2 linked regions of the Homo sapiens genome follow. The protein of the gene in region 2 interacts with the protein of the main gene of each other region in a pairwise test. Each region holds a gene or a part of one and is shown on either strand. Other genes may lie near its edges.

Region 1 (3,500 bases), on a different chromosome or scaffold from region 2:
ACTTTCTCCATTTTTGAAAAGCACTTTAGCTATATATATTTCAATTATGAAAGAATTCATGTTCTCCAAGCTCTTAGTCTTAGTTCAAAATTGTGTCTAATGAAATGATTGGAGATACAGACTGTAAATAAGAATGTCTATCACTTCAATAAAAACAAAAAATAAAAAAATCAGAAGTAACCTATATGTCCAAATATAGGGAAATGATTAAATTACATTCCATATGGTGAAACAAACACCCATGACTGAATATCATAAAAACATGAATATTTTTTCAAAGAATGTTTAATGATATGTGAACATTTTCACAATTTAATGTTAAATAAAAAGCCCAGAACTGAGTATTATAATGCCAATGTTAAAGGCCACATATGTATTTATAATGCATGTATAAAACTAAGTAAGGACTGTTACCAAAATGCCATTTGCCAGGGTGAATGCTGAATGGTGAAATTATTAATTTTTATCATCATAATTTCTGCTTCTGGGCAGCAGGGTTGACAAAAAATTACCTGTAGAGCTTCCTCCCTCCTTTCCCACCCTATCACTCTATGAATACATAGCAAAATTTAGGCACACTCTTGATAAGTAGTATATTGTTTTTCTCTGACTAATAATAAGTCTTAGTTGCTTAACATTTTCATTGTCATATGCAATTCTTAATTATTAAGTCACAGAAATGCAAGTTAATAATTCTTCCTGGTCAAAACTGTAATCACAATCAAGCGTGCAACTGTTCCTCATGTATTCATGCACATCACGCACTGAGTATGAACGAAACACCACTACACCTGAACCCACATACCTTTTCAGTCTTCAAATCTTTAGTATTAAACTTAGTGTAATCTTCTTTTGCTTCTACAGGCTCATCTGATAACTTTATTTTCTGCAACATTAGAGCAGTGAAGTGGTGTCAAATGTCACTTTGACACAACATCAATCCATTAAAAAAAAACCCAACATGTATAATTTAGACCTCTACAGAGGCGAATGGGACAGCAGACCCAGCAAAGGGCTTACTTTTTACAGGCTCCTTTACATTTTGCCAATCATCTAGGGAATTGAGCCACACATCACTCCTAAGAAGCAGCCTTGGTGATGGTGGATATGATTGGGTAAGTACATGGCTGAGCCCCTTAGCTGGTCCAGCAAACACAGGCTTTGTAGGTGCCAGGTGTGGTGGGCATGAGGGGATTGCTAATTACCAGATGAATGCAAGGCACAGAAGTCAAAATGAGAATAGTCTCTTGAAGGGGGCCAGGTGTCCAGCCAGAATCCCTATTTCATTTACCTCCTGGGCCAGTTTAATGTCCACTTATGAATGAAGGGACAATATTTATCTTACTTTATCCATGCAAGAACAACCTTGCACAAGCAAGCAGCCAGTAAGAGAGGGAAGCACAGAGAGGCTAAATGAATAGCTTAAGGTCACCAAGTAGAGGACTTTGGCCAAGATTTCAATTCTGATACAGTGTTCTTTCCATTAGGCCCAATGCAACTAAGTCAGACCTTTACTTAATATTTTCTCCTTTCACATGAACATTTTACACCAGTGAATGTGAGAATCTTGTCAAGGCCTTAATGATCACAATATAGAAGAAATCATGCCACACTTATTATGTAAAAGGTACAAAAGCAGGGAAGACAAGTCTTGCTGTTGAACATGGAGAATTGACTGCATGGTGATCACAACCCAGATTTTTATAATTTTCAGGCTGTTTATGGAGACACCAGGTTGACCAGACCCAACATGGATCTAACCTAGGAAACAGACTTCTTCCCAGCTTCATTCTTCATGCCCCTGCTTTGCTAAACAAAGAACGGGTAGAGTTGGTGCTAAAAGATTCCACAGCCCATGGTGTTTTATCCCATAACCCAAGAGGATAAAACACCATGTCTTAAAATTGTTTGCTGTAAAAAAACAGAGGCTCATCCTGGGAATATACCACACACTATAGGAAAACCTCTTGGCCACACAGCAACCTCTAGCAAATGAATCATTAAAAGAAAAAGACTAATCCATCACAAATGAACCACCTATCAGCACCAAGTGAATGTATATTTGCAACTTTGTTAAGAATATATGTTTCAGCTTGGTGCAGTGACTCATGCCTGTAATCCCAGCACTTTGGGAGGCCGAGGTGGGCGGTCACTTGAGGCCAGGAGTTGGAGATCAGCCTGGCCAACATGGCAAAACCCCATCTCTAATAAAAATATAAAAATTAGCTGCGCATGGTGGCATGTGCCTGTAGTCCCAGCTACTCCGGAGACTGAGGCACAAGAATTGCTTGAACCTGAGAAGCAGAGACTGCAGTAAGCTGAGATTGTGCCACTGCACTCCAGCCTAGATGACACGGCAAGACTCTGTCTCAAAAAAAAAAATACATGTTTCTATTTAAATTAAGACAGCAAAGGGTGTTTAGGTGATGCACATTTTTTACTAGAAAGGTATCTTCAGCTAGGAGGGTGAAACTCACAGCTAATAATGCTGAAGGCCAAAATATTTTCAAAACACAAAAAGCTTGAAGTTATGAGGATGCTTGTGTTCCTTCTCTATGGCAAAATGTTCCTAACACAGATGTCATTATAAACACTTAGACATTATTCCCTTTTTTTCTTTAGAGACAGGGTTTCACTGTGTTGCCCAGGCTGGAGTGCGGTGGCTATTCATAGTTGCGATCATCATATACTACAGCCTTGAACTCCTGGGCTCAAGCGACCTTCTGCCTTAGCCTCCTGAGTAGCTAAGACTACAAGTGTGTGCCACTGAACTGATGAGGTTCACTTTTCATTGATAATTCAAATAAAAAGTGTTCATTACAAGAACTTAAGATGAAAGGTACTTTTGTATGGACATAAAATGTTTAATTGGAGAAATGACTTGTTCAGGTGTTTTAATAGCTCACAACAAAACAAGATACCAGTTACAAGTGTTTAAAAAAAGAAAATGATTGTGGTAGCCTCTACATATAACTAGTTTGTATGTTATTCCCAGTGCACTGTTGAATATATTGGAAAAAAAGATGATTGAAGCATTTACTAAAATTTTTGTTATTTAAAAGACCAAATCCCTATGGATTTGGGAGATTGTTTCAGCAGAGAAGTGGCTCAGAAAGACAGTAACAAAGGCTATGACTAAATGGATACAGTTCTGGAAAGAGAACAAACTGCAGAGTACCACAGGGATAATGTTAGGCCTTCTTACAAATGATTTGCAAGAAGGAACTCGGGAACATCTCCAAACCCACTGGTTGCATTCAACTCTGCTTGCTGACAGTGACAAATTGAAAAGACTGGAGCAAGTGAGGGTTGGAAGCTGAGTTTCAACAAAGGCAGACATATGATAGTAAAGGAAAATAATATAAAACATATTAAAGATGACAGGCTCCACGCTATCGATTACAACATAGATACAAAGATACCTAATGACTACTGGAATATATTTCCTGGAAACAGTCAACTATATTACTGTAAAAATCAATCAAATCCTGGATACAGAC
Region 2 (3,265 bases):
TTGCTTTCACACTCAGTTGCCCTGGAAAGGCTGAGCAGTTTTCAATCTGCTGAGCTGATTTATAGCAAGTACAGCTGTAAATTCAATTGTACTAGGTGTTCAGCCTATGCCCTCCCAGTGATGTATCTGAACTTTTCAAAAGGACTAGTTGTCATTAACATCTCTCTATTTTCTTTTGCTGATCTGGGATGATGGGATGCAATGACAATCTGCTTAAAATAAACCTTAAAACCTTAAAACATAATCACCACATCATCCACAAACCCCATTCAACCACAGCATGAGCACAATCACTCTGTAACACAAGGTGAAGATATTCTCTGTTGCTTCTAGGACATATAAGTCCCTCCTGAAGTTTGACAGAGAGAAATAAATTGTGGTCAGGACCTGGATAGGCTCACTAGTAGCCGTCGATGTCGGTGGCGTCTTCTCTTACCTGTTTAAAAGAGGCTCAGTGGCCTTGAGATTTGAACACAATACAGCTGATGGAATCTTGCCACTTTCCTTTTGAATAGACTTTAATTGAGAGCAAAGTGAAAAATGCAGGTTACAATTTTAAGTGTTATCATCAATATCTTGTAAGATCAACACCCAGTGATGCATCTAGTACTTATACAGTCCTAATTTTAGTTGTCAAAGAGCAAATCATTATCAGACATATATTTACACAGTAATTTCAAGCAACGGTAAATAATAAATTCCCTCCCTTAAAAAACAAAACACAACACAACACACACACACACACACACACACACACACACACGACCATCTTTAAACAATGGATTTCCTCACCCAGTAAGTCTCATTTTTTTCACATATACTTGTAGACCCAAAGGTCCTTAAGTTACTTAAAAACAGTCTTATCAGTGGAGATCCTGGACCATCCCCTATTTTCTTTTAAAGTCACTTTCATTTTTACAACTTGAAGCCATATACCAGCATGGTTTTTATACACTAAGGACACTCCCAGTGATGAAAATGAATTCCCCTCCATTTGTGCAAGGAGGTATGTACATCTATAAAGACACATATGATTACCACTCAAAAGAGTCAAAAACATACACAAAAAAATCTCAGATCTTCATAGTTTCTTAAGAGCAGTGTGCCAGTGTTCACATTGAATTAACTGAATGGTAAAATTCTTTTAGATTTCTATACAGAGGTACTGGTTAGTTCTGATTTTTTCTTCAGCTGCTTGAAATGCATGAGCTTTAAAAGTTGCCTGGCAGAACTACATCCTGCTTTCCAGGTTAGCAGCCTGGCTGACCTCGGGAATGTTAGACAAGATTCACCCCCGATGCCTTGCTCTCTGATTTATTTCTTGCTGTTGCTGTTAGTAAATGGAAACCATGACAAAGTTTACATTAGCAGACACATACACATGCCCTGGCCTATAAATATTCCATGATAGAAAATGGTACAATAATTCCATCCCCAGCGAAAACGAGCATAAAAAAAGAAGGGAAGGGTCAGGGGGACATGATCAGCTATGGCTCTTCTTACAGTAGAAAATCCACACCAAATGGCAATGGGCTTTTAACTAACCAGACATTGTTAGCTGCTTCTCCAGGGCCTGTGAGTCAACTAAAAGTAGGCAGGGCAGAGACCAACTCTTCCAGGCACACCTGGTAGTTTCCAGAAGCACCGGTATCTTGTCTTGGAAGTTGGATGAAGAAGATCAACTGAAGTTTCCTTTTTAGTGAGGAGGAGTGGAGAGTCAGACTTGAAAGCAGTTCACACACTGTGCTGCCTGGGACACTGAACGGTCCCCGAGGGAGACCCCTCAAAGCGCCAGCTGGAGTTTGGTCATGTTTCTCTGATGCATGTTGTGATGGCGGACTAATTCATCTGACCGGGCAAACTTTTTCTGACAACTTGGCCACCGACAGCTGAAGGGCTTTTCACCTGTTGACACAATTGCCAGTCAGAGACACTTGCAACAAAGAGACAGGCACAAGTTCAACTATCAAGGCCCGAGTGAAGTCATCACAAGGCACCCACTCTGAATTTCCCATCATTCTGTCCCTGAGCTAACCAACTGAGCTCATTTCCCAGGCAGCCTTGAAACAGCAGCACCTCTTGGGGCTTTAAGGATCGAAATATTGTAAAAAGTTATATTCTTAGGTCAGAAAACTTGGAAAGTGGGAGATAAAGAATGAGTCAAGTTGGGGGAAATGTCTGAGCAATTCATAATTAAGGGGAAAAACGTTTGTTTCAGTCTCTGCTGATAGAATGTTTTGTGAACTGTGTAAATTTCTCCCCCTTGTTGAGTAAGTTGGGAACTGAGATGAACTGGGCTGCAGAAGCCTCTGGGTCATCTACCCTGGGTATTACTGAGTGATCACTGTCCAGGGATCTCAGCTGTGACTGAAGCTTTTAACACTTCTATCTGTGTAGATACCCTGGATGGGCTGGATACTTTAAAATAAATCACTGATACCAGTTTACATGTTATGTGTTGTTTTTTTTTTTCTCTTAAAGTGTTACTGAGAGCATAATCCTGTTATATGGAAGATTCTAGTTGGGGCGTGGTTCTTAGATTTTTAATAAGCTTGCCAAAAGATTGAGGCTTCTCCACCCAAAGAGCCCTCAGACATTCTTTCCAAGCCTCATTCTCATTAGGGAGAATAACTACCATTTATTTGATGCTTAACATATGCCAAGCCTTGTGCTGGGCTTCACACACGCACACACACAACCTCATGTACTCCTTACAACTGCCCGTAGGGGAAGCGTTATTATCCCCACTCTACAGATGAGGTAGGACATCTATTGAGGGCAGATCCAGGCAGAACTCAAATCTCCAGGTCTGTCGAATTCCAGAGCCCGTGCTCTTCCCTGTATCACACCTCCCAGGCCTAGCCATGATGGAAAAGCAGCTGCAGCTCCATCTTAAGGAAGAATGCACAGAAGCTAAACCCTGTGCCACCTGACGGATCTTCTCAGATACTGCTGGTCCCACTTGGCCTTCTCTGAGAACTACTGGTTTGGACAAGCACTGAGAAATGTCCCAGGAGGGCTGGTGTCCCAGGGTCAGACTGGAGGCCAATCAAATGTGGTATTAAACAGTCTGCTGGCAAAACAGGTCATGTCACACTTACTTGGGGAGTGTGACAGCCGTGTCAAAGGGACTATAACACTTTGCCACCGAATTATGAGCTCAGGACTAAGTTAAAGAAGCATCAAAGGCACCTGAGGAAGGGAAGCAAGATCCCATCCTGCCAACCATGGGCCACAGGTGCCTTGGCTCTGTTTTTAAATGCAG

What was found. The genes of interacting proteins can lie anywhere in the genome.
Region 1: the proteins of WT1 (region 2) and RNASEH2B interact in a two-hybrid assay, tested with the Homo sapiens proteins (one large-scale study listed by BioGRID and IntAct).

The regions. Positions count from the first base shown.
Region 1 is NC_000013.11:50,951,291-50,954,790, reverse strand, and holds part of RNASEH2B (ribonuclease H2 subunit B), read right to left. Parts: exon of another isoform or gene 887-3,500; coding exon 806-886; intron 1-805. UniProt on the Homo sapiens protein: Non catalytic subunit of RNase H2, an endonuclease that specifically degrades the RNA of RNA:DNA hybrids. Participates in DNA replication, possibly by mediating the removal of lagging-strand Okazaki fragment RNA primers during DNA replication.
Region 2 is NC_000011.10:32,387,275-32,390,539, forward strand, and holds the end of WT1 (Wilms tumor protein), read right to left. Parts: intron 1,906-3,265; coding exon 1,784-1,905; 3' UTR 501-1,783; downstream 1-500. UniProt on the Homo sapiens protein: Transcription factor that plays an important role in cellular development and cell survival. Recognizes and binds to the DNA sequence 5'-GCG(T/G)GGGCG-3'. Regulates the expression of numerous target genes, including EPO.